Homo sapiens: one gene and its partners. Changing the gene in region 4 together with the main gene of any one other region gives a genetic interaction. Each region holds a gene or a part of one and is shown on either strand. Other genes may lie near its edges.

What was found.
Region 1: changes in PTP4A3 (region 4) and ABCD1 together harm fitness less than expected from each alone (positive genetic interaction), as found in Homo sapiens cells (one study listed by BioGRID).
Region 2: changes in PTP4A3 (region 4) and ZNF568 together harm fitness less than expected from each alone (positive genetic interaction), as found in Homo sapiens cells (one study listed by BioGRID).
Region 3: changes in PTP4A3 (region 4) and ZNF699 together harm fitness less than expected from each alone (positive genetic interaction), as found in Homo sapiens cells (one study listed by BioGRID).
Region 5: changes in PTP4A3 (region 4) and SLC5A8 together harm fitness less than expected from each alone (positive genetic interaction), as found in Homo sapiens cells (one study listed by BioGRID).
Region 6: changes in PTP4A3 (region 4) and C2orf66 together harm fitness less than expected from each alone (positive genetic interaction), as found in Homo sapiens cells (one study listed by BioGRID).
Region 7: changes in PTP4A3 (region 4) and DEFA5 together harm fitness less than expected from each alone (positive genetic interaction), as found in Homo sapiens cells (one study listed by BioGRID).

The regions. Positions count from the first base shown.
Region 1 is NC_000023.11:153,731,356-153,734,855, forward strand, and holds part of ABCD1 (ATP-binding cassette sub-family D member 1), read left to right. Parts: intron 1-3,496; exon of another isoform or gene 3,497-3,500. UniProt on the Homo sapiens protein: ATP-dependent transporter of the ATP-binding cassette (ABC) family involved in the transport of very long chain fatty acid (VLCFA)-CoA from the cytosol to the peroxisome lumen.
Region 2 is NC_000019.10:36,922,832-36,926,331, reverse strand, and holds part of ZNF568 (zinc finger protein 568), read right to left. Parts: coding exon 3,486-3,500; intron 1,133-3,485; coding exon 1,074-1,132; intron 1-1,073. UniProt on the Homo sapiens protein: Has transcriptional repression activity, partially through the recruitment of the corepressor TRIM28 but also has repression activity independently of this interaction.
Region 3 is NC_000019.10:9,299,839-9,303,338, forward strand, and holds part of ZNF699 (zinc finger protein 699), read right to left. Parts: intron 2,667-3,500; coding exon 2,540-2,666; intron 1-2,539. UniProt on the Homo sapiens protein: May be involved in transcriptional regulation.
Region 4 is NC_000008.11:141,395,021-141,398,520, forward strand, and holds part of PTP4A3 (protein tyrosine phosphatase type IVA 3), read left to right. Parts: intron 1-3,500. UniProt on the Homo sapiens protein: Protein tyrosine phosphatase which stimulates progression from G1 into S phase during mitosis. Enhances cell proliferation, cell motility and invasive activity, and promotes cancer metastasis.
Region 5 is NC_000012.12:101,207,439-101,211,374, reverse strand, and holds the start of SLC5A8 (sodium-coupled monocarboxylate transporter 1), read left to right. Parts: upstream 1-1,136; 5' UTR 1,137-1,526; coding exon 1,527-1,877; intron 1,878-3,936. UniProt on the Homo sapiens protein: Acts as an electrogenic sodium (Na(+)) and chloride (Cl-)-dependent sodium-coupled solute transporter, including transport of monocarboxylates (short-chain fatty acids including L-lactate, D-lactate, pyruvate, acetate, propionate, valerate and butyrate), mocarboxylate drugs (nicotinate, benzoate, salicylate and 5-aminosalicylate) and ketone bodies (beta-D-hydroxybutyrate, acetoacetate and alpha-ketoisocaproate), with a Na(+):substrate stoichiometry of between 4:1 and 2:1.
Region 6 is NC_000002.12:196,806,556-196,810,664, reverse strand, and holds the start of C2orf66 (uncharacterized protein C2orf66 precursor), read left to right. Parts: upstream 1-1,309; 5' UTR 1,310-1,316; coding exon of another isoform or gene 1,317-1,328; coding exon 1,329-1,451; intron 1,452-3,042; coding exon 3,043-3,222; 3' UTR 3,223-3,241; intron 3,242-4,109.
Region 7 is NC_000008.11:7,054,804-7,058,189, reverse strand, and holds DEFA5 (defensin alpha 5 preproprotein), read left to right. Parts: upstream 1-1,450; 5' UTR 1,451-1,492; coding exon 1,493-1,664; intron 1,665-2,646; coding exon 2,647-2,759; 3' UTR 2,760-2,886; downstream 2,887-3,386. UniProt on the Homo sapiens protein: Host-defense peptide that maintains sterility in the urogenital system.

The DNA of each region.
Region 1 (3,500 bases), on a different chromosome or scaffold from region 4:
ACAAATTGTCCTCCCTGAGTACCCTGTGTTTCTTTTTTTCTGGGTACTTTGATCACTTTCTTTCTTTTTGGCATTCTGCAGTTTCACTATGACATGTTTAGGTGTCAGTTTTTGTTGATTCTGCTTGAGACTTGTTATATGTCCTTTGAATATTTGAGTTTTTCAATCATTCTGGAAGATTCTCAGCTATTAGCTTTTCAGATATTGCCTGACTCTCATTCTTTTTTCCTGTTCTTCTAGAACTGGCAGCCAGTGCTGGACTTCTGACTCTCTTCGTTGTGTCTTTCGGTTTCTGTTTACTGTTTCCCATCTCACACTGTCTGTGCTGAATTCTGGGGATGCCCTGAGGCCTTCCTGTTTGCTCATTTTCCAGTTCACCAGTTTTCTCTTTGGCCATGTCTAATTGGAATTTTGTTCACATTTCAGTGGCTGTTTTGTAAGTTCTATTTCATTCTATTTCAAATAGGAATTTGAAAATGGACATTTCCTTTTTCAAGTAGAAATGTCAGGCTGTTTCTGTGTCTTATTTGCTCATCTTTTTGACTGCTCCTTTTATACTGTGTATCAGGTTAGTCATACTTACCCCACCGTCTCTATCTGATGGTTTGGTTAGCTTCAGTTCTTGGGAGTATCATTCGCCTGTCTTCTGTCTGCTGGTCTTCACTCATGGTGGATCATTTCCTTGTGGGTTTTGCAACAGAACTTCTATGGGGATTGGTGTGGCCTCAATGGAGGGTGTAAGTCCAAATGTCCTTCTGTTTTGGCCAAGCACTCCAGGGTAAGCAGTTGGAGGCCATTAGTTAGTGCGGAGGGGATGGTTCCTGAATTGAGAGGTGGTTTCATTTGAATTCATTTGAACTCCAGGCACATTGTTACAAATTTTCAGAGGAGGCTTTTTGTTCATTGGGCATAGAGCCCAGGCTAAGCAAGGAAAGCTTCCTGGTCTTTGCCCTGCCTGCCTCTGGGGCTATCAAAGGATCACCTGGCTGTCTGCTTCTCTTTGCTCCCAGAAGTTTCCCTTGCTTTCCGTCAAGCTTGGCTCTGCTCGAAATAGTGTCGTAGTTTACCCAGTTTGGTGGGAAGAGGGTTTTCGATTTATAAACAGAAGTCTGATTCTCTCCCTGTTCCTGTTTCCACCTCGGGGCTTCCATGCCCTCAACTGTCTGTGTCATCCTCTGGGTGACTCACCAAGAGGAAGGATCTAATTCGGGGACTGCACATCAAGGGCAGCCTTGATGCTGGCGTAGGTGCCCAGCCCAGTCAGCGCACCTAGCCCCGGGCACCGAGACAGCCCGCGAGACAGCACCTGCAGCCGCTTCGCTCCATGGCTGCCATTGGTCACATCGGGCTGCTCCCTGCCCTGAAGGCTTAGGACTTTTCTGAGCCTCTGCTGTGCCAGGCTTTGTGGGCTCCTGGCCCTGCTCTGGTGGTCCTCAGAGCCAGCAGCCTTTGAAGGCTGTGAAGCATTCCCTTTCCCCTGGCTTGATAGGCTCTGTCCTGTGGCCGTCTGTTTTTTTTTGGAGGGGGAGCTTTTGAGATGGAGTCTCACTCTGTCTCCCAGGCTGGAGTGCAGTGGCACGATCTTGGCTCACTGCAACCTCCATCTCCCGGGTTCAAGTGATTCTCCTGCCTCAGCCTCCCAAGTAGCTGGGACTACAGGTACACGCCACCATGCCTGGCTAATTTTTGTGTTTTTAGTAGAGATGGGGTTTCGCCATGTTGGTCAGGCTGGTCTTGAACTCCTGACCTCAAGTGATCCACCTGCCTCGGCCTCCCAAAGTGCTGGGATTATAGGTGTGAGCCACTGTGCCTGGTCCTGTGGCCTTCTTATTTCCCCAAATGCCAGGCCTGCTCTGTCTTGGGGCCTGTGCCAGGAGCACTCTTTCCTCTGCTGCCCCATGGCGCAGCCCCCCTAGGCAAGGCCCGGCCTGCCCACCGCCACCTTTCCTGTCTCCTTCCCTGCCCCACTGCTCTCCCAAGCACTCGACACCCCGTCAGTGGCGCTTTTCTCTCTCCCTGCCATGGACTGCAAGCTCCATGGGGTCAGGGATTTTTGTCTGTTTTGTCCCTGCTGTGTCCCCTGCATCGGGTGGCTAGTGAGGGCTCCAGGTGCTTCAAGGAGGTGGAGCGCACTGGGTGGGAAGGCAGGCTCTTACCGGTTGGAAGATTTAGATAAGCTTTGCTGGGCTGGTGTGCAAGGCAGGTGGGCTCAGGAGATGGGCAGGGCCTGTGGCTCCCACTCCAGCCCTGAGGCCTTGCTCTGTCCAGCTCTGGGGCCCTGGCCTTATTCACCCAAGGCTCCAAGAGAACCTGCAGAAGGCAGCTGGTTCTACGCCAGGATGCCCTGGGCACAAAGACTTGCAGACCCTTCCCTTTGTCCACAGCGACTGTCCAGCTCTCAGAACACCTGGGGAGGAGGGCTGTGTCCTTGAGAGCACCGTGGGAAGGAAGGTCCAAGGCCTTCGACCTTTAGGATTCACATCCCCGCCCCGCCAGCCCAATCTAGTTCCCTGGTTTCCCGGGCCAGGCCCCTTTCCACCCTGCATGGCCCTGAGCGGATACTGCGTTCCGTGTCTTCCCCCAGCCCCCAGCCAATGATCCCTGAGGCTTCCCCCTCAGGATCACACCCACCCCTGGATACAGTCCTCGGGTCCTTCACAGGACATTCCCACCACTTCAGCCACACCCCAGCACCCTCAGAGGCGGCCTTCGCCCTTGCTCCCCACCTCTGCTCCTGTGGGGAATCTAAGGATCAAGAAACTGAGAGTCAAGGCCATTGATGAGGGTCAGGGGTGCTGCCACGGGGCCTAGAGTGTGACAGAAAAGCAAATTAAGACAGGAGCAGCTCCTGGGAGAAGCAGACACCAAACAATACGGCTGCTGGCCCAGAGGTCAAAAACCATGGCCTAGAGGGGGCGGTCAGGAAGTGGGACATTAGGCCGGGCGTGGTGGCCCATGCCTGCAATCCCAGCATCTTTGGAGGCCAAGGCAAGTGGATCACCTGAGTTCAGGAGTTTGAGACCAGCCTGGCCAACATGGTGAGACTTCGTCTCTACTAAAAATACAAAAAAAATTCGCTGGGCTTGGTGGCGGGTGCCTGTAATCCCAGCTACTCGGGAGGCTGAGGCACAAGAATCCCTTGAACCTGGGGAGGCAGAGGTTGCAGTGAGCCAAGATCACACCACTGCACTCCAGCCTGGGCAACAGAGCAAGACTCCATCTCAAAAAAAAGAAAAGAAAAAAAAAAGAAAGTTGGCGTTTCAAAGCCAAACAGCTCTGGGCGTTGGATGACAAAGTTCAGATGTGCCCCAGGAGGGGCGACATCAGTGGTGCAGGACAGAGGGCCGGTGGAAGGAGCTGGCTGTACGTAGAAACAAAACCAGATGCCTACTGGTGCATTTAAAAATCAACGTTATTGAGACGTAATTAACATACTATACAATTCTTCCTTTTCCATGTACAGTTTAAATTCATTCACAGAGTTGTGCAGCCATCATCAC
Region 2 (3,500 bases), on a different chromosome or scaffold from region 4:
AGACATAAGCTGAAGAAAAAGAGGCAGTTAAGCAGAAAACATTCAAAATATAGGTGTGTGAGTGACTTCAGAGGTGGAAACAAAAAGAATCAAGAGCAGAGAATACGTAATTTTGTAAGATGAGGATGAAGACTATATCTTCTGAGACCATAAAAAAGATGTGAAAAGCTATGGATATCAGAACTATAAGATTCTGCCATAGAATATTAGTATAATTTAGCTCAACTTGGATTAAAAACTCAATTGAAGAAAATATATACGTAGGATCATTTGAAAGATATGTGTTCCACTTACTCTTCCAGGTAATTTGAATTTTTGAAGTTTGGCCAAGACCAACTTCTAAAAGCTAAGCTAAAAATTGTAAGAATTAAGGAATTACAGTCGTCCCTAGGAAACCATGTAGAATTGGTTCCAGGACCCCCCACGGATACCAAAATCCACTGATGCTCAAGTCCCTTATATAAAATGGTGTAGGATTTGTACGTAACCAATGTACGTCCTCCCGTATACTTTAAATCGTCCCTAGATTACTTATAAAACCTAATATAATGTGATTTCTATGTAAATAGTTGTTACACTATGTTGTTTAGAAAACGACAAGAAAAAAGTCTGTACATGTTCAGTACAGATACAACCACCCATTTTTTTTTCAAGTATTTTTGATTTGCAGTTGGTTCAATCTATGGATGCAGAATCTACAGATACAGAAGTCCAACTATATTTTAGAGTTTCTTTTTGAACAAGGTGCCAGTTAAAAGCCTTTTACTTAAATAATTGTAAGTTTTTCCTCATAAATGGTGCAACTTATGGACTTACGGAATAAACTTAAGTGTCCCAGTTTGCTTTGACTGTCCAGATCATATTTAAATTTGAACTCAACTTTAATAATTCTGTATGTACCTGCTTCTGCATAGCCATATCTCAAATTTCCCCAGGTTCTGATTTTCTATCTGTATTTTTTCTCACTTTTATTTTCATCAATTTATTTTTTCCAACACATTGGTAGGTTACAAGAACCCACCGTAACTGCACTGCAAAATAATGCAGGAAACAAATAAATGCTTAAGACGTACAAGAGGCCTGGTTGTATCCTCTTCTTCCTCGGAAAGGGCAGACTCTTGAGAACACCAAGCTGAGGGAAGAGAAATGAAACAGATTTGCTTCAAAGTTTCAGACAAAGGAATATAGAAATCTTCAGTACCAGGTGGCTAGAAGACCCTCTACAGATGAATGATCCTTGAAGCAATAAGAAATGTTAACTGCCATCTAGCTATAGACACTGAAATGGACACAGATGGCTAATTTAATCATATGGGGTCTGATGGGGATTTATGGAGGGCTAAGTATGCAGTGCCCAATGAATCTATTGGCAATATTTTATCTCCCTAGAATCTTGCTGTTTTATTTCTAACAGGAAGTTTATCTTAAGTACATAATAATAGTTACCCCAAAAATTTAAAGATTGGGATGATCTTTAAAATTTTTTTTTCTTTTTTTTTTTGAGATGGAGTCTCACTCTGCCGTCCAGGCTGGAGTGCAGTGGCCTGATCTCTGCTTACTGCAACCTCTGCCTCCCAGGTTCAAGCGATTCTCCTGCCTCAGCCTCCCACGTAGCTGGGATTATAGGCATCCACCACCATGCCTGGCTAACTTTTTTGTATTTTTAGTAGAGAAGGGGTTTCACCATGTTGGCCAGGCTGGTTTCGAACTCCTGACCTCAAGGGATCCATTTGCCTCGGCCTCCCAAAGTGCTGGGATTACAGGCGTGACGCCGCGCCTGGCCTAAAATGTTATTTTTTAACCATAAAAAATTTAGGGCCAGGCGCGGTCGTCACGCCTGTAATCCCAGCACTTTGGGAGGCCAAGGCGGGCGGATCACGAGGTCAGGAGTTCGAGACCAGCTTGGCCAATATGGCGAAACCCTGTCTCTACTAAAAATACAAAAATTCGCTGGGCGTAGTGGCGTGCGCCTGTAGTCCCAGCTACTTGGGAGGCTGAGGCAGGAGAATCGCTTGAACCCGGAAAGTGCAGGTTGCAGTGAGCCGAGATCACACCACTGCACTCCAGCCTGGGCGACAGAGCGAGACTCTGTCTCCCCCTCAAAAAAAATAATTTAGAAAAAAACCTTCATCAGAGACTGGCTATAGGTAATGTGGAACATTGATAAGATAGGATGCAATACAGTCATGTTTCTAATGACATTTTTAAAAAACTTGATTTATTTTTTACCCTAAAAAATTCAGGGCCTTTTGGTTAAAAATAAAAGCCTGAATACCTGCATTTATTAATATTTCCACTCTCTCCCAAACCAATCATAATGTTAATAAAGGAAAAAAGGAGGCTAAAACTCATAAGGACAAAGAATATAGAAGATTTCCACAGATAAGAGCTGTCAACAAAATGTGGGAAGCTAAAGAGCAGACAAATGAGTGGTATCTAACTTAACCAGAGAAAGCTGAAGCTTAAGTGAAGGTGGGAGGAGGGTGGGGAAGCCATGACAAGACCCTAGAAAGGTTCAGGAATGGAGCTACTAATTACTTCTGTGGACTAGAGTTTGGGAGTAGGGCTGAAAAACATAAAACCGAATGTAAGATGTCATAAAAAGATGTTAAAACCACCTGATGTTTTCTTTCACCCAACATGGCATAGTCACATTTCCCTCACATTGGCAACAGAAAAAAATTAAAGATTATTTCTCTAGATAAACTGAATGAGACAAGCTCTGAATTTCAGGCATACCAGATGCAGATAAAGGTGGGGTTGAAGCAATGCAGAGAGAAAAGAATTAAAGTTCTCATATTGCAAGATGAGGTGTCCAACATGCTCACTTCCTTCGTCTCCCAAAAAGCAGGAGTTCTGGCTTGTACTTCTCAAGCAAAATCTAGGACTTCTTGCTGGGGAAACTGACTAGCCCAAAAGAAAATGCTTACAGATGCTGACATCTGGTCAACCTTCAACCTCCAAAAAATAATACCATATTAGAAAGAAGGGCAAGGAGAAGAGTGTGTTGGGGTGGAGATGAAACGGAAGGGGTTAGGTAGTGAAAGAGAGCTAAATCCTTAACTTCATTATCAAAAATCAACAGGAAATATCTAAAACTGAGAAATGAAGCATTAGCAGTGTAAGAATGTTATTTAGAAAAAAGGAGGTGAATACCAGAATATTGAGACAAAAATGTTCAAAGTGGTTGCCTTTCAGGAATGGGGACAGGGAACCAGGATGGATGGAATAGGAAGCTTTTGTTTATGTTATAGTACAGCATTTAAAGATATACTTAAACATACTCTTAAGAAATAAAAATTGCATTTCAAAATTTATTTTAAAAAATCAAATAGTCAAATGAATATGATTAAAAACAAATGTCTCCCCTGCCTAGTCAATTAACATACGTGACCTTTCTCAGTAGGAGTAATGAATTTCTTTTCACTGTCCCCAAATGTAGAGCCTTTCTCTCCTAAGCTCTGTCCACCTATGAGCCACCTCACCTTTCCTTTCCATCA
Region 3 (3,500 bases), on a different chromosome or scaffold from region 4:
AAGAACTCTTAAAACTCAACAATGTTTAAAAAAAAAAAAGACAAAAAAATGAGCCAAAGACCTTTACAGACACCTCACCAAAGAACATATACAGATGGCAAATAAGCATATGAAAAGATGCTCAACATCATAAGTCATCAGGGAAATGCAAATTAAAACAAGGCACCACTACACACCTGTTAGAATGGCCAAAATCCTGAACATTCACAACAACAAATGCTGGTGAGGATGAGGAGCAACAGGAACTCTCATTCATTGCTGGCTGGAATGCTCGCTCTGTCGCCCAGGCTGGAGTGCAGTGGTGTGATCTCAGCTCACTGCAAGCTCTGCCTCCCAGGTTCACACCATTCTCCTGCCTCAGCCTCCCGAGTAGCTGGGACTACAGGTGCCCGCCAACACACCCGGCTAATTTTTTGTATTTTTAGTACAGATGGAGTTTCACCCTGTTAGCCAGGATGGTCTCGATCTCCTGACCTCGTGATCCACCCGCCTCGGCCTCCCAAAGTACTAGGATTACAGGCATGAGCCACCGCGCCCGGCTGGCAGTTTCTTATAAAATTAAACATCCTCTTACCATAAAATCCAGCAACTGAATTGCACTCCTTTTACCCAAAGGAGTTGAAAACTTAAGTCCACATAAAAACCTGCACACCAATGTTCATAGTAGCTTTATTTGTAACTGCCAAAACGTGTAAGCAACCAAGAAGTCCTTCAGTAGGTGAATGGATAAACCGTGGTACATCCAGACAATAGAATATTAGTCAGAGGTACAAAGAAATGAGCTCTCAAGCTATGAAAAGACATGGAGGAATCTTAAATGTATATTGCTAAGTGAAAGAAGCCAATCTGAAAAGGCTACATACTGCATGATTCCAACTATATGACATTTTGCAGAAGGCAACATCATTATGGAGACAGAAAGATCAGTAGTTGCCAAGATTTAAGAGGGAGGGAAGGAGGGATGAATTGATAGAGCACACAGGATTTTTACAGCAGTGAAACTATTCTGTATGATATTATAATGGTGGATACATGTCATTATATATTCTTCCAAACTCATAGAATGTACAATACCAAGAGTGAACCCTAATGTAAATGATGGACTCTGGGCAATGATGACGTGTCAATGTAGCTTCATCAGTTATAACAAATTTACCACTCTGGTGGGGGATGTTGTTATTAGAGGAGGCTATGCATGTGGGAGCCAGAGGTTATACGGGAAATCTCTGTACCTTCCACTCAATTCAGCTGTGAACCTAAAATTGCTCTAAAAATAATAATAAAGCCTACAAAAAAAAAAGAGAGAGAGAGAGAGAGAGAGAGAAGTCCACCCAGAACCTCAAAATGTTACCTTATTTAGAAATAGGGTCTTTACAGATATAATCAAGACAAGGTTATACTGGATTAGGATGGGCCCTAAATCCAATGACTGGTGTCCTTATAAGGAGACAGAGACTTAGACACACAGGCAAGAAGGAGAAGGCAGAGAATGGAATGATGCATCTGTAAGTCAAGGAATGCCAATGATTGCCAGCAATCACCAGAAGCCAGGAAGAGAAAAGGGAGTCTTTCCCCCAGAGCCTTCAGAGAGAACATGGCCCTGCTGATCCCTTGATTTCAGATACCCAGCCTCCAGAAATGCTGTGAAGGAAAAAATTTCCGTTGTTTTTAGCCACCAGTGTGTGATACTCTGCTACAGAAGGTCTAGGAAACTAATACAGCCTGCTTCCATAGACCCATCCCCAAATCACTCAACTGAAGCACAAATCCTGTAATAGGTCTTTTCTAACACCATCTTACTAGGACATGTAAGAGGCATGTATTCTTGCTTGCTGCACTGCAAAATAAACCCAACTTGTTTAACTATAAGTGTGTTCTGGTAGTCTTTGGGTAAAGGACACAGATAGCAGTAAAATCCTCAAAATGTTCAAACTACAAACCTCCTCCCTGTGTCCTATAGTGATTGCTGAGGTTTATACCCACACTTTCGATACTTAATAAACCTCAAGGCTTTCAACCACGAAAAAAAGCATCAGTTCAATATACAGATGTTTATTTTCTTTTTTCTTTTTTTTTTTTTTGAGATGGAGTTTCACTCTTGTTGCCCAGGCTGGAGTGCAATGGAGCGATCTTGGCTCACCGTAACCTCCACCTCCTGGGTTCAAGCCATTCTCCTGCCTCAGCCTCCCAAGTAGCTGGGATTACAAGCATGCACCACCACGCCTGGCTAATTTTGTGTTTTTAGTAGAGACGGGGTTTCTCCATGTTGGTCAGGCTGGTATCGAACTCCTGACCTCAGGTGATCCACCCGCCTTAGCCTCCCAAAATGCTGGGATTACAGGCATGAGCACTGCGCCCGGCCCAGGTGTTTATTTTCATAGCAAAGCCACTAGACTGTAAGTTCCTTGGGGTCAGTGACCATATCTGTCTTACTTACCAATGTCTTCCCATTCCTCAGCCCAAATCCTAGAATAAAGTCAATTTAGTGAGATAAAATAACTTTCTAAACAACTACATGAAAGAATCTTGCCATTCTTACCTAGTGAGGCCAGGTTCTGGAAGTTTTCCAGCATCACATCTCTGTAGAGGTTTCTCTGAGCAAGATCCAGCAAAGCCCATTCCTCCTGGGTAAAGTCCACAGCCACATCCTCAAAGACTACTGAGTCCTAAAACATACCACAAATTCTGTTCAGAAAGGTACAATTCCTCCAATGTGTACAAGAGGACAGATGAGGCTCACAACATCGAGGAAATGAGAGTCAATTCATAGGAAGTTCAGAAGATCCCAGCATCTACTCTAGGGCTCAGTCAACAAATCTCTCTCTCTTTCTATCCACACATAATTCATCACTGATCAAATCCTGGCTTATAGATTTAATACTTCTAAAACACTAAATTGCCAGGCAAATTGGGTCAAGCCTATAATCCCAGCACTTTGGGGAGCCAAAGCAGGAGGACTACTTGAGCCCAGGAGTTCAAGACCAGCCTAGGCAACAGAACATAGTGAGAATCAGTCTCTACTAAAATTTTTTTAAAAAATAGCTGGGCGTGGTGGCATGTGCCTATGGTGGCAGCTACTCCGGAGGCTGAGGTGGGTGGGAGGATTGCTTGAGCCACAAGGTTGAGGCTGCAGTGAGCACGACCATGCCACTGCACTCTAGCCTGGACAAAAAAAAACAAAAACAAAAACAAAAAAACATTAAATTTATCTCCCCACAATCTGATGCCAATGAGCTAGGAAAAAACAAAGTGTTTTTCCTACCCTCTTACATAGTCACTCAATACTGTACAGAACACTTCTGACACCAGATGTGTGGGGGATATTTTCCACAAACACCAAGCAATTCCCCAGTGGACACCAGCTGGGTATCCTACAACTTGCTTCTGATACTATCTACCTGGAGATTCCACAGGTTGGAGATTCCACAGGAGGTCCCACTAAACTGCCTCCCACTTCAGATGCCAATCCCAAGTTAAAAGGCTGTCAATTATACTTCTGA
Region 4 (3,500 bases):
ACGGGTGCTTCCTTCCACCCAGGAGCCTGAGCAGAGGGTGGAGGGTCCTGGCAGCTACCTACGGCAGCTGAGAGCTGCGCTCTTTAGCCGAGCGGGATCAGGGCTACGTGGACACAGCCCGTGCCAGTGTGGGTGGGGCACGAGCTGTGGGTTCCGATGGCCCAGTAGGCGTTCACCTGGCAGAGAGTGTGCGCGTGTCTCCCCTCCTTGGGGCGCCTCAGGTCAGGACCCTGAGAACCTCACTTATCCTTTGAGCTGCGCCAAGGCTGTTGTACAAAAGACAGTTCAGAAAATAAGGACAGGCTGTTCCTCCCAGCCAAGGGTGTGGCCCTAAGGACCCCTAGGTGGGGCATCGCTTCCCGCCAGGCACGTGCCACTCAGTCTTGGGCTGCTTTAGTGGCAGCCTCCTGGTTTGGAAGCGGAACTGAGGGTCAGGGATGACCACATGGCTCAGGGCTCAGCTGGGGTCCTGAGAGTGGGCCCTCAGGTTTACCTTCCTCCTGGAGGGGAACTGGGGGCCATTGCCCAGTGCACCCCCACTTCCCCTTAGGTGCGTGGGCCACCCCTCCCTCCTGCAGCCCCCGTTCATCTACCCAGGATAGGTGCATGGGCCACCCCTCCCTCCTGCAGCCCCCGTTCATCTACCTGGGGAAGGTGCGTGGGCCACCCCTCCCTCCTGCAGCCCCCGTTCATCTACCCGGGGTAGGTGCGTGGGCCACCCCTCCCTCCTGCAGCCCCCGTTCATCTACCCAGTGGGGATGTCCCCTGGCTCCTCTCCTGGCATCTTCCCGGGATGTAGGGGTGCTCCCATGCCCCCCGGCTCCTCTCCTGGTGTCTTCCCCAGATGTAGGGGTGCCCTCATGTCAGGGCTTATGCTTCTAGAAGGAGTGGAAATGCAGCACAGTCATTGCTGTTGCCTGCCAAGGGCCACCCTGGCTGGGGACAGATGGGGCTGCCTCCCCTCTCCCACCCTGTCCTGGCCACCTGCCCCCGCCAACCCTGCCACTGGCTCAGAGGAAGCAGGCCTAACCTGATGTGTAACCCCCACCCCTGCCGTGACTGTAACCCCGTGCCATGTGAAGGTGGGGCTCCTTGGCAGTGCCTGGTGATTGCGGTACAGCCAGAACCGGCCCCATTATCTGGGCTGTGGGTGCCATTGGTCAGGACCGTGATGGACTCATACGTAAAACTTGATGCATTTTAACTCCCTTCATCCTAGAGGATTGAGACCTCTGGCGGGTAAGTGTTCATATTACCGTCCTGCCCTAGAGCCAGGGAAGGACCCTAGGGGAGAAGTGACGTGCCAGGGTCACTGCTGGGAGGAGAGCAGGAATTTGAACGCTGGCCATGCCTCCTTTTTGGGGAAAGGTCAGTAAATGGGCAGGGGAGGGTGCTGGTCATTTGGGTGATGGTGCCAGTGGGGTGAGCAGCTCCAGGTCATCAGGTGGTATGGAATCTGGCCCCGGGCAGCCCGTCCAGCATTCCTCTCTCACCGAGCCCACAGCCCTGGAGCACCTACTGTGTGCCTGCTCTGGCCCACTGGGAACAGGACAGTCCCGAGCCCTGCCCCGAGGAGCTGGCGCCAAGTGGAGCAGCTGCACCACAGGCACACGGGGGACAAAGGGCACCGCTGATGATTTGGCCAGGAAGAGATGAGGTGGGGATGGGGGCTACAGGGTGGGGAGACGGTGGCCTCGGGAAGGGCTAGCTTGGCCACGCCAGCTTGGTCATGTCACCTTCTGAGTCTCAGTGTTCCCTTCTCACGTGGGACAAGACCACGCATAACCCGAGGGGCTGCATGTGTGGAGCCGACAAGCTGACGTGCGGGTCCTGAGTGCACTGAGCCCGCTGGGGTTCCAGACACAGTGGATGAACGATCCAGGGAAGGAAACAGCCTGGGCTGTGCTCTCTGGGACCTGCCCTTGAGCCAGGTACTCCTGTGGGAGGGTAGCCGGGCTGGCTGGGGGCCTGGAGCCCACAGCCTCTCCTCCCTTGCTGTTTTCCCGGCCAGGGAGGAAGCCAGGCTGGAAGACCCCAGAGGGCTAGGGGGATGAACACAGGTTGATCTGTGTTGAATTTGGCTCTAGCCACCTCCTCAGGGCCAGAGCGGCTCCTGGAGCCGGAGTGAGAGCTGTGTTACACGCAGGGAAGCCGGGGCTCGGGGAAGGTGGCTGCCAGGGTGTGCAGGGCTGTGCCAACCTCATCCTGGTGGGTCCCTGTGACAACAGGACAGGCTGCCTGCCCATTGTACAATGAGAGGCTGATGCTCTGTCACTTCATGAGGTCACACAGGCTCCAGGCAGTGGGGGGCTCTCTGAAGGAGGTCCCAGTGACCTGAATGGAGCCCCCGGGTGGGCTGAAACTTCTGCCTGTAAGGCCTGTCCTGGGTTGGGGTTGGGTGGGAGAGGGCAGGAGTCCTGCTGGGAAGGGCCTCTGCCATGCCCAGCTCCTACCACAAGTACAGAACAATGACAACTCCGCCACCTGGCTGCCCCACGCTGGGCACATGCTCCCCGCTGGCCTCAGTTGGGAGTCCAGTGAGTCAGGAGGTGAAGGTGGGGTGCACGTCCCCTGCAGACCCTCACAAGGCAGGTGGCGGGGCGGGTATTGGTCATGAGAACCCTGCCTTGGGGCCTGAGTGCCTCGGTGGCTGTGGAGCCTGGTTTCGACCTCTTTGGGACCAGTGTTCTTGTCCATAAAAGGCAGTGATCTTTCTGGATAGTTCAGAGAGATTCTGTTATCTTTGCCCATCAGAGCTGGAAGGGAGTTGAACAAAATGTTTTGCAGAAATTGGACCTGAGTTGGGCATTGCTCCTCCTGCTGCCCCTGGTTCTGAGGGCTTGGCACCACTAGCCCGCTCTCTGTCCAGGGTCGGCCCGGCTCCTGCCTTTATCATGTGTGAGCCTCGCTGTGTGTGGCTCAGTCCTGGACGGGCCGAGACCTGGATGCAGGACCCTGGACAGTCAGCGCAGGCGGAGCAGGGAGGGAGGCGTCTGCCTGAGGCCTGCTTGGAGGTGCCCAGGCTGGAGCCCTTGGCCCTGGAAGATGTGGTCAGGGCCCAGTGGTGTTGGGATGGCCAAGAAGAGGGCCCCTGTGCCTTCTGCCCAGGGCTTGGCCTAGCCAGTGCTCAGGGTTTATTTGCTGGATGAGGGGTGGAGTGGGCCAGTGGGGCCCAGGTCTCCTGCTAGGTGACCCTCAGAGGTGGGCATAACATCCCTTGGAGTCTCTGCTCTGCACTTGCCAATAAGAGGCTGGACCATTTGAGTGGTTATAAGTTGGGAAGCACTCCCTGATTGCTTGGTTCTGCTTGAGGCACAGCCTCCAACTCCCAGAGATTCCAGCACCCCTGCAGGAGCCAGCGTTGCTGATGTGGGCAGACGGGCGTCTGGGAACACCCCAGACTCAGCATACTAGGGTTCAAGTCCCTGACTCCCATCCTGGGGCATGGAGTGGCAGGAACCAGGGAATGTTCTAGAGTGAGGTGGTGAGGTGGAGCAGGG
Region 5 (3,936 bases), on a different chromosome or scaffold from region 4:
AGTTATATAATATACACATATAATTTATGTATTATATATAAGTATGTATAACATCATATGTAATATATAAATATAGTACATTTCACACTGGTAGGACGTAATTCCAAACCACATATTTGTTTAACCAATTGAATTACTTGGATTTAGTTTCTATTTCCCTCTTTATTTCCTTCTGAAAATATTATACAAATAACATCAGTTTACAAAAAATAAAATCTGATATAGCTTTTTTATCATACACTAGGCTAGACTAAATGCATTCTGTGGATTGTTTACCTAGGACCAGATGGTATATTATAAAGTTGTATACAAATGAACAAGGACTGCCTGAAATGGATTGATAGCTGAGCACATTTGGCTGGAGCGTCTATTTTAGAAGGAAAACCTGAGAATCATATTATTTGAGTGTGATTCATGTGTTAATAGTATTTCAAGACAAGCCACTTAAAATATGTCCTGAGTGGTGATGCTGGAAATGATCTTTTCTTCAGTGTTTTCAAGTGTCTTCATTTAAGTGTACACATTTTGCCTACCTATAACACGTATCTACACATTGTGATTAAGAGAGCAAACTCTGAAATCAGACCTAGATTAAAGATCTTAATCTCTGCCAGTTGATTGGGCAAGTGACTTAATCATTCGACAGTAATTTCTGCATTTGAAAATGCCTATCTCAAGGGTAATGAGAATTACACTGGTTCACCAAAAGAATTACACTGACTAATATAAAACGTGCCAAGCATGTATGTGTCACATGAAGGCTCATTAAAAAGCGGATATTATTGTTAATCTTCCAATAACTACTATTTCCAACAACAGGCTGAAGGGGCTCAGAAACGTTTGTTGAGTAAAAACACAAGGAAACAGTAGCACAGATTTCCTGCTCTCCTTTACGATCGATGACCTGTCTAAGGACTGTGATCTCTGTTCACTACAGATTGTCACCTGCATTAATCTACTGTCACCCATTAACCTATCAAATAAGGCAGTCTAAAAACTCCAGGCGTCCCTTTCCGTAAGGACCCGGACTGTTGAACTGGAAAGCTAAAATTCAAGGCGTGACAATTGCCCTTTGTCCCACATTCCTCCACCGGTCGCCTGCTTATTTAAATGGTGCGTCCCCTCGGGTACCACTTGAACAAAACCTGCCCAGAGCGCTCCCTGTGTAGATTCGCTGGAAGCAGCTGGAGGCTCCAGTTCTCATCTGCTCAGGTGTCCCCGGCGCCTTGGCGAACTCGGCCACTCCAGTTCCTCACGTGGTGAGCACTCAGGGCAGCGGGTCGATTTTCCGAGGTCCCATACCTGGGTTTGAGGGGCGCGGCTCGCAGCGGCGGGTGCAGGGGCGACTGCCAGCCCTCACCCCGCCTCGGGGTGCGTTCGGAGGCCGACACCTGGAGGACGCCTCCAGTCCCCGCGGGACGCCACGCCTGCGCGCCAGGGATCCGGGATAAGAAGTGCGCGCCGGGCTCCGGCTGCGCGCCGCGGGGCCACCAGTTTGCGCGCAGGGCTCAGGCGACCGTGCGGCCATGGACACGCCACGGGGCATCGGCACCTTCGTGGTGTGGGACTACGTGGTGTTCGCGGGCATGCTGGTCATCTCGGCCGCCATCGGCATCTACTACGCCTTCGCTGGGGGCGGCCAGCAGACCTCCAAGGACTTCCTGATGGGCGGCCGCAGAATGACCGCAGTGCCCGTGGCGCTGTCCCTCACCGCTAGCTTCATGTCAGCCGTCACTGTCCTGGGCACCCCCTCCGAGGTCTACCGTTTTGGGGCCATTTTTAGCATCTTTGCCTTCACCTACTTCTTTGTGGTGGTCATCAGCGCGGAGGTCTTCCTCCCGGTGTTCTACAAACTGGGAATTACCAGCACCTACGAGGTAAGGGGCAGGGTGGGCTGGGACCATGCAGGGCGCGGGGGAAGGGGACTCTGCAGACCTCTGGAGGCGTTTTCTTGGGGGCAGACTGTCACTGCCACATCGAAATCTCTCCCCGTCCATCGTCATCATCACCCTCCCTTCACTCCTCCCCGTCCCCCGATCTTCACCTGGCATCTTTCCCTTCTACTGAGAGGCGTCCTCTAAGGGTGAAAAAATTCTTGGGATTTACTCTCCTGGGCTTAGTGAAAAAAAGAGGCTTCCAAAGTGAACGGATTGCAACAGTAGTGCTCGCTATGGTCCTTTCTACCTTTAGCATCTTTGATTCCCAGGCAAGGGGAAAGATTTTTGGGGAAGGTAAGTTCTTCAGGTCTCAGGCCCTGCTTCTTGAAAGGAATACTCTTGTTCCAGGTCCTCAGCCCCATTCACTCTTCCAAGATAGTTGGTAAAGAATTTGTACTCCCCTTCCTTCCCCTTCCACACCCACCCCCTTTCCACTGAAACAGGCACCCAAGTGGCTAAGGTGTACCAGTACCTGTATTTCGGACCAGATTCTACCACTTACTAGCTGGGTGACCTTGGGTGACTTACCCAACCTTTTGTGCCTATTCCTCAAAAATAAAATAATATCACCTACCTCATCCAGTTGGGAGGATTAAATGAGATGATGCAAGGTGTAGCATTTAGAATAGAGTTTGACACAGAGTAAGTGCCAGATAGGTATTGGCCATAATTACTGTGGTGGTGCTAGTTGTGATGGTGGTAGTTATCTTGGGATCAGTAGGAAAATTAGGCAGCAAGGTTCTCAAACAGCTCTGCCTTCTCTATGGAAAGACAATTAAGGAAAACTGTCTTTCCTCTATTGCACAGGTCCCCTGGCTATAGGTTTTCTCAAGTTGTCTGCAAGAAAGGGCTTTGAAAAGATGATGCACGTTTAGTTTAAAGAGCTGTTGAATGGGAGGTGGGGGCGGGATCAAAGCTCAGGGGAGTGGCGGGGCCCAGTTCAGTGCCTTCAGTGGTCTCCCTCACCCAGCACTGGTCCTTGAGCTACATGGGACAAGCCTGCAGAAGTTTCCTCTCTATTAGGCCATTACCCAGAGGACTCCAATCCTGAGATTCTGGCAGGTGGTTTCCTAGTGAGGCTGGTTCAACTGGTGCTGGGGACAGGGCCTTAACGGCACAACAAACATTGGTGACACACTCTGCCTGGGCTCTAGTGACATCTTCCAGGGCGAGGCACCCCTGGGCAGCATTGCCTTCCATTCACTCTGGGGCTGTGTTTGGGAGAGCTCAATAATTATCCCAGAAGTGAGCAGGATGCAGTTTCTCAGGTTTGCTCAGAAGTGACAAACTGGCGAAATTCCCCAGACCAAATTCACTTCTCAGTCATTTTTTTTTTTTACTTCTCCTTATAGTGAGAAGAAATAAAATATAATTTCAGACTATGACTTCTTTCGAGAACTCAAAAGGCTGGTAACACTGGGCCCATGCTCCCTGTGGCCACAGGAACTCAAGTTTATAGCTATTGCTCTCACTCTCTATTAAACTTCTATATTGAAGTCTTATCTTTGTGTTTTCATGGTTACTGTTTTTTTGGTAGAGAAATTTTTATCTGCATTTATGTCTTTATCAAAAAATGTGAAAGGCAAAATGGACAGGGGTAAAGGGATCTCTTGTTTCCAGGGAGATGTAAGAAAACATATATCTTAGTGGGTGGGAGGAATATTCCAACATGTTAATATGTGAACACCTGGCCACTGTCACTTATGTATGTTACCTGATGGAACCTGGAGGCATCTGAGTCTGTGAGCTGTGATCTATAGCTAACCAATTCCCAAACTTGGAAAGGGTTTGAAGAATCTGGCAGGAGGACTTCAGTCCCCACACATGAATGCTGCTCTCATAACCACTGACCCATGCCTCTTCGGGGCTACAACATTAACTCAAGCAGAAACAGATTTCCCTCATGCTTGCAGTGGTAGAGGCTAAGTTAGCAGGGGTTCCAGCTAAAAATGTCAAAAAGCAAAAGTTCATTGAATGCTGAACACATGCCAGGCACTGG
Region 6 (4,109 bases), on a different chromosome or scaffold from region 4:
CACCAGCCTTCTGAATAAATATCTTGTCCTAAATTTTGTTCTAAATCATTGGAACCAAAGCAACGTCACAACTCAAGTCCAATTTCTCGGCCTACCATTTTCTACAGATGGCATTTATTCAGCAAGGGAATGTTGTAGGTATAGTAATTTATCTTTTTTCCATGAAACATGTGTTATCTTCTTGCTCTATTTTGAAGAGATATTATGATAAATGATGCCACTATTTAAAACTTGTAAAGCTTCTTGAGGTTCTCAGAAAAAAGTACAAGGTATAGGTCAAAAAGAGTAATTTTGTCTCTCACAAAAGAATTTTCTGTTCAAAAAATGCTGTTAACTTGAAAAAGTCATATCTCCAAAAGAACGTTCTAATAGGTGGGATAATCATCATCATATTTCCAGCTATAATCCATCATATTTCCAGGTGTATCCCTTCCCTTAAAAGTAAAAAAGGAGAAAATCACTTTGCTGTGTGGAAGTGCTTTGTGTGTTTTATAAAATCCACATAAAATGTTCGTGGTTCAAGGAGTGGCTGCCGCATTTCTAAGGCAAATAAGCTTATCCCTGAAGAAGCTTGAAGATCTGACTCTCAAGAATCTTTGTGTTCTGGATGAAAAAGGAATCATTATTTTTTAACTCCCCTGCTCAAGTCAGTGACTTCCACTGGCACCCAATCCATTGGTTATAAGTACCCATGAATTGCCTTGCCAATTATAGGCAGGATAACCTAGGAGGACCAACCAAAACCAAACTCCTGGTAAGCTTTATTAGCCTTTTCTACAATGTGTCTCAGTTTCTCTTTCACACCTTGGAGTGGAAGACAATCTCTACTCACACTGTTGTGGTATGTGTCTGTCTGTCTCAGATGTGTGTATAAGGTGTATTTCTCAGCTCGGTATCTGAAGTAATTTCTTTTTCTTTTCTTTTTTTTAAAGACTGCTGTCTTAAGGCTTAAAAGTAATTTAAGGTTTTGTTTTTTGTTATTTTAAGAGTTGCAGTTTCTTTGGAGACAACAAAGTACTTTTTTTCCAAAGATGAAAAAGGCATATTCAGACTTTCTATGTTATGTTCCATAATTGTTTTGCTTATCACTGTATAACATTCTCATTATCATGGGCTACTTTAAGCTAATCAGTTGCATTTTGGGGTCCTCATTTAGAAGTCAATCTGGAAAAAAGATGGCTGTAAAACTTAGATAAACCAGTATGCTATTTCTCCTTCCTTGTCTGCCTTTACAGATGTTTCCTCTTTCTCTCTCTCTTCCCTGACTATCTCTCTCAATGATCATTGACAGCTCCCGCATCCCCTCTTTCACTCAGCTTCACTCCACCATGACCAGAGCACCTCTCCTGCTACTATGTGTTGCCCTGGTGCTGCTTGGGCATGTGAATGGAGCCACAGTAAGAAATGAGGACAAATGGAAGCCACTCAACAACCCCAGAAACAGAGATCTGGTAAGAACACACTTGGGGCCTGGGTTTCAGGATAGAACTAATGCCTCTTTGGATTTACGCACACAGCATTCTGTTTTCCAGAACGTAGTGGAAAGGGGGCTACCAAGGGTTGAGAAAATTCTCCAACAGGATTGGACCAGAGTTTTACTACCCTAGTGGTTGGCAACCTATTGTTTCTCTGGCCAGTTTACATTTGTTTCTGTAAAGAGAAACAAATTTATATTTAGAAACAATCTTATACACACATAGTACAATTCATTTGTAACTGATCTTATATACACATTGACTTTGTAGCCTTGATTTCTAATACATATAAAAAATAAAGAGTGTAACAGGGAATTGCTCGTGCATAGCTTAGATTGAACTGATGATAAAACAAGTTATCATATAACTAGAGATTGCCAAGCTCAGCTGCAAAAATTGAAAGTTGACCCTGCATGGGTATCAATTTACTGGACATATTTTCAACATATAGTTATCTATAAAATAGAATTCAAAAGATCAGTAAACATTCTCTTTAAAAAAAATGCCAAATACAATAAACATGTTGACATGACTATTTTGAAATATGGTTTTTCTAAAGTGAATGATGGGAAATATAACAACATAGGATTAAAATAAACTGAGATAAGAGACCAGCAGGATTTGTTTTCTGGTCACAGCTGCTGACGAAAACAGGATCTGGTCCAGACAGGATAAAGTGAAAACACTGGGTGAAACCAGCAGATGGCAACAAAAGTGGTCCCGACCTGCTCTCATTGCTCTTAGGATATGATCCTCCCCTCAGTGCCATGACAGTTTACAAATGTCATGGCAATTACCTGGAAGCTACCACTCCTTTCCATGGCAATGACCCAAAAGTTACCACCTCTTTCCTAGAAAGCTCTAAATAACTCCCTTCTGTTTGCATTAACCCATCCCTTAATTTGCATATATTCAAAAGTGGATAAAAACACAGTTGATAAGAGCCCATATGTTGTCAGCCCTAGGTGCACTACCTATGAATTAGCCTTGTTCTGGCAGGAGCAGTACCTTTCAATAAAAGATTGTTACCACAACCAGCCTGCCCTTAAATTCTTTTCTGGGCAAAGCCAAGAACCCTCCTGTGCTAAGCTCCAGTTTTGGGATTTGCCTGTCCTGCATCAAAGCAAGTAGCACTTCGCACATCTTCTGTGTTCATTTCCTAATGGAAATCTGAAAAGAAACTATTGCAGAAGGCAACAACAGAGATCTCATATTAAGGAAGAGGAGATACTGAGCTGCTTATTATGGAGTTCATTTTCACCTTTGACCTTAGTACTCAGAGATAGTTCACAATGAATCTTTCCACTGTGGTGCCGCTCCATAGTCTTCCTTCAATTTTCAGTAAGAATGGTGAATTATTTTGGTTAGGGTTGAAATGTCAGAAAGAAGGTACAGAGGAGGGGAGGAGAAGTAGCTGAAGCATGTACTTGTATTTCTAGATTTTGTATTTCCTGCCTCTTAGATTAGCCTTAAAGTCAATTCAGGGGAAAAATAGAGGGAAGAAAAACACCTTTATTTTTGGTGTTTCATTTATATCTGGCATTGACCATTTTCTTTCTCTCTTTAGTTTTTCAGAAGGCTTCAGGCATATTTTAAGGGCAGAGGTCTTGATCTTGGAACATTTCCAAATCCTTTCCCCACGAATGAAAATCCTAGACCTCTCTCTTTCCAGTCAGAACTTACTGCTTCTGCATCTGCAGATTATGAAGAGCAGAAAAACTCCTTTCACAATTATCTCAAAGGCTGAAAGTTTCTTCTGAGCTCAGGTAAAAGTTGGCCCTTTATTCTGGATCTGTCCAAACATACAAGTCAGCCATAAAGTAGATATTTTGAAAGTATTTATTTGAAAACATAATTTTATTTCCTCATAGAAATAAATGCTCAGTTCTGCTTATACTCATTACTATTAAGTATTTGGATTTGGTTCAGGTATTTTACAGTCTTGTTTTAAAAAGAAATGACAGTTTTTATTTTTTAAGCATAGTTATCCAGGCAGAGACATATTAAAATAATAGAATTATCTCTTAATAGGATTATTAAATTAATAACATGGCCACACTCTTACCTGTATCTTTTTCCAGACCAACTGATATAGCTAAGTTATGTGGAAAATCTACATAAAGAAATATGTCAAATTGAGCTGTTGGATTAGATGGGAATTAAAAGTTGAAAGTATGGTTCTTTGGGGGATAAAGTATTATGCATATATTTGAGCTTGAACTTCCTCACCTATAGGAAGAAAAGGTTGACTATTAGTAAGGATGGCATTTTTCTCATAGAAAAAAATTAAAAATTTATTAAGATTTGAATTTCATTACTTTTTTTGTTGTTGTTGAGGTAGAGTCTCACTGTGTCGCCCAGGCTGGAGTGCAATGGTGTGATCTTGGCTCACTGCACCCTCCACCTCCTGGGTTCAAAGGATTCTTCTGCCTCAGCCTCCTGAGTAGCTGGGATTACAGGTGCCTGCCACCACACTCAGATAATTTTTGTATTTTTTTTTTTTAGTAGAGACAGGGTTTCACCATATTGGCCAGGCTGGTCTCGAACTCCTGACCTCGTGATCCACCTGCCTCAGCCTCCCAAAGTGCTGGGATTACAGGCATGAGCCACCACACCCAGCGAATTTCATTACTC
Region 7 (3,386 bases), about 130 Mb from region 4:
ATCAATCCAAACGTCACATCATACCCTACAAATATACAGAAAATTATTTTTCAATGAATAAATAAATAAATTTGAAAAAAATTAAATGAGGAATTCAAATATAGAGACTCTCCAAGGGCCCACTGAGCCCCAAAGGATTTGGATCAAATATGGTGATATTATGGAAATATGTAGTAATATCTTAAAAATGTGTAAGATATAGTCTCTTTTTTTTTTTTTAAGAGAAAGGGGTCTCACTATGTTTTTAGGCTGGTATCGAACTCCTGGTCTCCAGTGATCCTCCCACCTCAGCCTCTCAAATAGCTAGAAATATAGGCATGTACCACCATGCTGGCTTAAGATGCATTCTTTGACACAGCAATTCTATTTCTATAAGTTTATCCATATAGGTAAGAGAACATATATACAAGATAATCACTGTAACTTTACTTATTACTGCAAAAGTTTAAAAATAACCAAATTGTAATAATTTTATAATATTTTATCAGTACAAAAAATAAGTGATGGCATATACAAACCCTGGGATAGTATAAGGCTATTAAAATTATAATAGCATTCCATGTATTTTGATATACAAAGTGCCAATGTTACAGGTGAAAAAAGCGAAGTGCAGAATACTATGTGTAACTGTTAATAGTGATGGTTTGCTGGGTCAGAACTGAAGGCCTGGGGGTAGAAATGAGAGCTCATGACTTCTACCTTTTGAATGTTGTTCCTTGTGCATGATTTACAATTTTCTAAAACTAAAAAAAAAATCTCAGAAAGGGGCTGTACGCACCTAAATTACTTTGATATTCCCCAAAGTGGAGAGAAGTACCCGCTACACATTTTATGTGATGCATTCAGATCACACCAACTCCTTGAACTAAATCCGAATTTTTATTTTAATCTGATAAACTTGGCCTACTATTTTACTGAACTCATTTCCCCTATAGCCTGATAAGGTCATTGACCTCTCCATACTGGCACCAGCGGGAGACTACTCACCTCGAGATCTCAAAAGCCTCCTACATGAGGTTAGTAATATCCCTGAATCCTGCAATGAATTAACTCTCTACTCCACTGAGTCCCAGGTCTGCCCCCAGAGAGTCATCCAGAGAGTACCAGGGACCATCTTCAGAAAACAAGAGGCATTTGATCCCCAAACTTCTTGAATGAAAGCGCTGTTGTTTTTCTTTTTTGAATATATAAAAGTAAATACTCAAGCAGATGGGAAACAGAACAGGATAGTAATACCCTTATCATCATTAACACCTTGGATCAAGAAGAGGCATTAAGCATACAGACTCACGCTTTGATGAAAGCTGGGAGAAAGAGGAGCATCAAAGGGATCTTGAGAACAAAGGCAGTCCTTCCCCTCCCAATCACATGCCCACCTCCTCTCACTGCAGCTTCTGTCTCAGGTCTTCTCCCAGCAGAGCTATAAATCCAGGCTGACTCCTCACTCCCCACATATCCACTCCTGCTCTCCCTCCTGCAGGTGACCCCAGCCATGAGGACCATCGCCATCCTTGCTGCCATTCTCCTGGTGGCCCTGCAGGCCCAGGCTGAGTCACTCCAGGAAAGAGCTGATGAGGCTACAACCCAGAAGCAGTCTGGGGAAGACAACCAGGACCTTGCTATCTCCTTTGCAGGAAATGGACTCTCTGCTCTTAGAACCTCAGGTAGGAGACATCAATCTTGCACATCTGCAAAATCTAGAAAAAAAGGATTGGAGAAAGGATCTGGAGTCAAGTGTGGAAAGGTCTACCTCACTTGAGTGACTTTACTTAATCTTCCTGGACCTTGATTTTCTCATCTATAAATTAATCAGTGAGAACCAAATAAATCTAAAAGATTTTCTTTTTTCTAAGACTTTCAGTTCCAAGATATTTCTGTGAAATTTGCTACTTTTAAGATAGAAAGAGCTACACTGACTAGTTCTTTGTAGATCTAAATGGGCAGACTTAGTTATATAGAGAGTGTTTTACTTTGTCCATTGGAAAAGCTTTTAGAACCTAGAGAGGAACCTATAGGTGTGTTTTGATGTAGGCTAATAGGCTTGATTAAATCTTTCTACAATACATCCTTAGATCAAAACATCATATTGTGTCTCATACATATACACAATTATTGTTTGTCAATTAAAACAAGTAAATATGTAAAATGTTAAAAAAAAAAAAAAAAAAAAAAAAAGGAGAGACAGAGAATGAAGAATTTGAATTTGGAAAGTCTTCAAAGACTCCTTGAGCACCAAAGTATTTGGTCCATGACATTAGCATGCACAATGCGGCATTTCAGAAACTGATTCAGGTGCTTTAGGGAGCCTTGTTAGGACCTGGAAATCACACATGGAGGTCAAGATTAGGCGTGTGGATGAAGCAGAATGAAGAGTAGGTAACCCTGAGGTTGAGAGGTATATTGTTGGACCAGGGAGCAGGTAATAAATACATCCTGGATAGACTCACATGGGGAAAAAAACTATGATCTTGCATGACTAACACATAGCTAGTAAGATTTCTTGTCACTTACGACAAAGACATGAATTTTCTCCATCCTAACATGACTGATACAGTGTCTCTTATTTAGACTATCTCAGTTAGTCTGGCTGTGCTTGTCCTTTTTCCCACCTCCCTCGCTGTGCCTGACCCTCTCTTCTTTCCACAGGTTCTCAGGCAAGAGCCACCTGCTATTGCCGAACCGGCCGTTGTGCTACCCGTGAGTCCCTCTCCGGGGTGTGTGAAATCAGTGGCCGCCTCTACAGACTCTGCTGTCGCTGAGCTTCCTAGATAGAAACCAAAGCAGTGCAAGATTCAGTTCAAGGTCCTGAAAAAAGAAAAACATTTTACTCTGTGTACCTTGTGTCTTTCTAAATTTCTCTCTCCAAAATAAAGTTCAAGCATTAAACTTAGTGTGTTTGACCTTTTTAATTTTCTTTTCTTTTTCCTTTTTTTTCTTTTGCTTTGTTATATGGTGGTTTGTATGGTTCCTTTGTATTGAGAATTCTGATCTACATTAAGTTAACTGGTCTTTGCATTCCAATGATGCACAATTTGAGCATCATAGAGCAATAACAAAATAACAAAAATGAATATAATTGGGTTTTTTATTGTTGTTGTTTGAGACAGTGTCTAACTTAGCCACCCAAGCTGGAGTACAGCGGTGCAATCTCGGCTCACTGCAGCCTTGACCTCCTGTGCTCAAATGATCCTCCCACCTCAGCCTCTTGAGTAGCTGGGACTACAGGCATGTGCCACCACACCCTACTAATGGTTTGTATTTTTTTGTAGAGACAGGGTTTCACCATATTGCCCAGGTTGGTCTCGAACCCCTGAGCTTAAGTGATCTGCTCTCCTCAGCCCCCCAAAGTGCTAGGATTACATGCTTGAGCCACCATTCCTGACAGG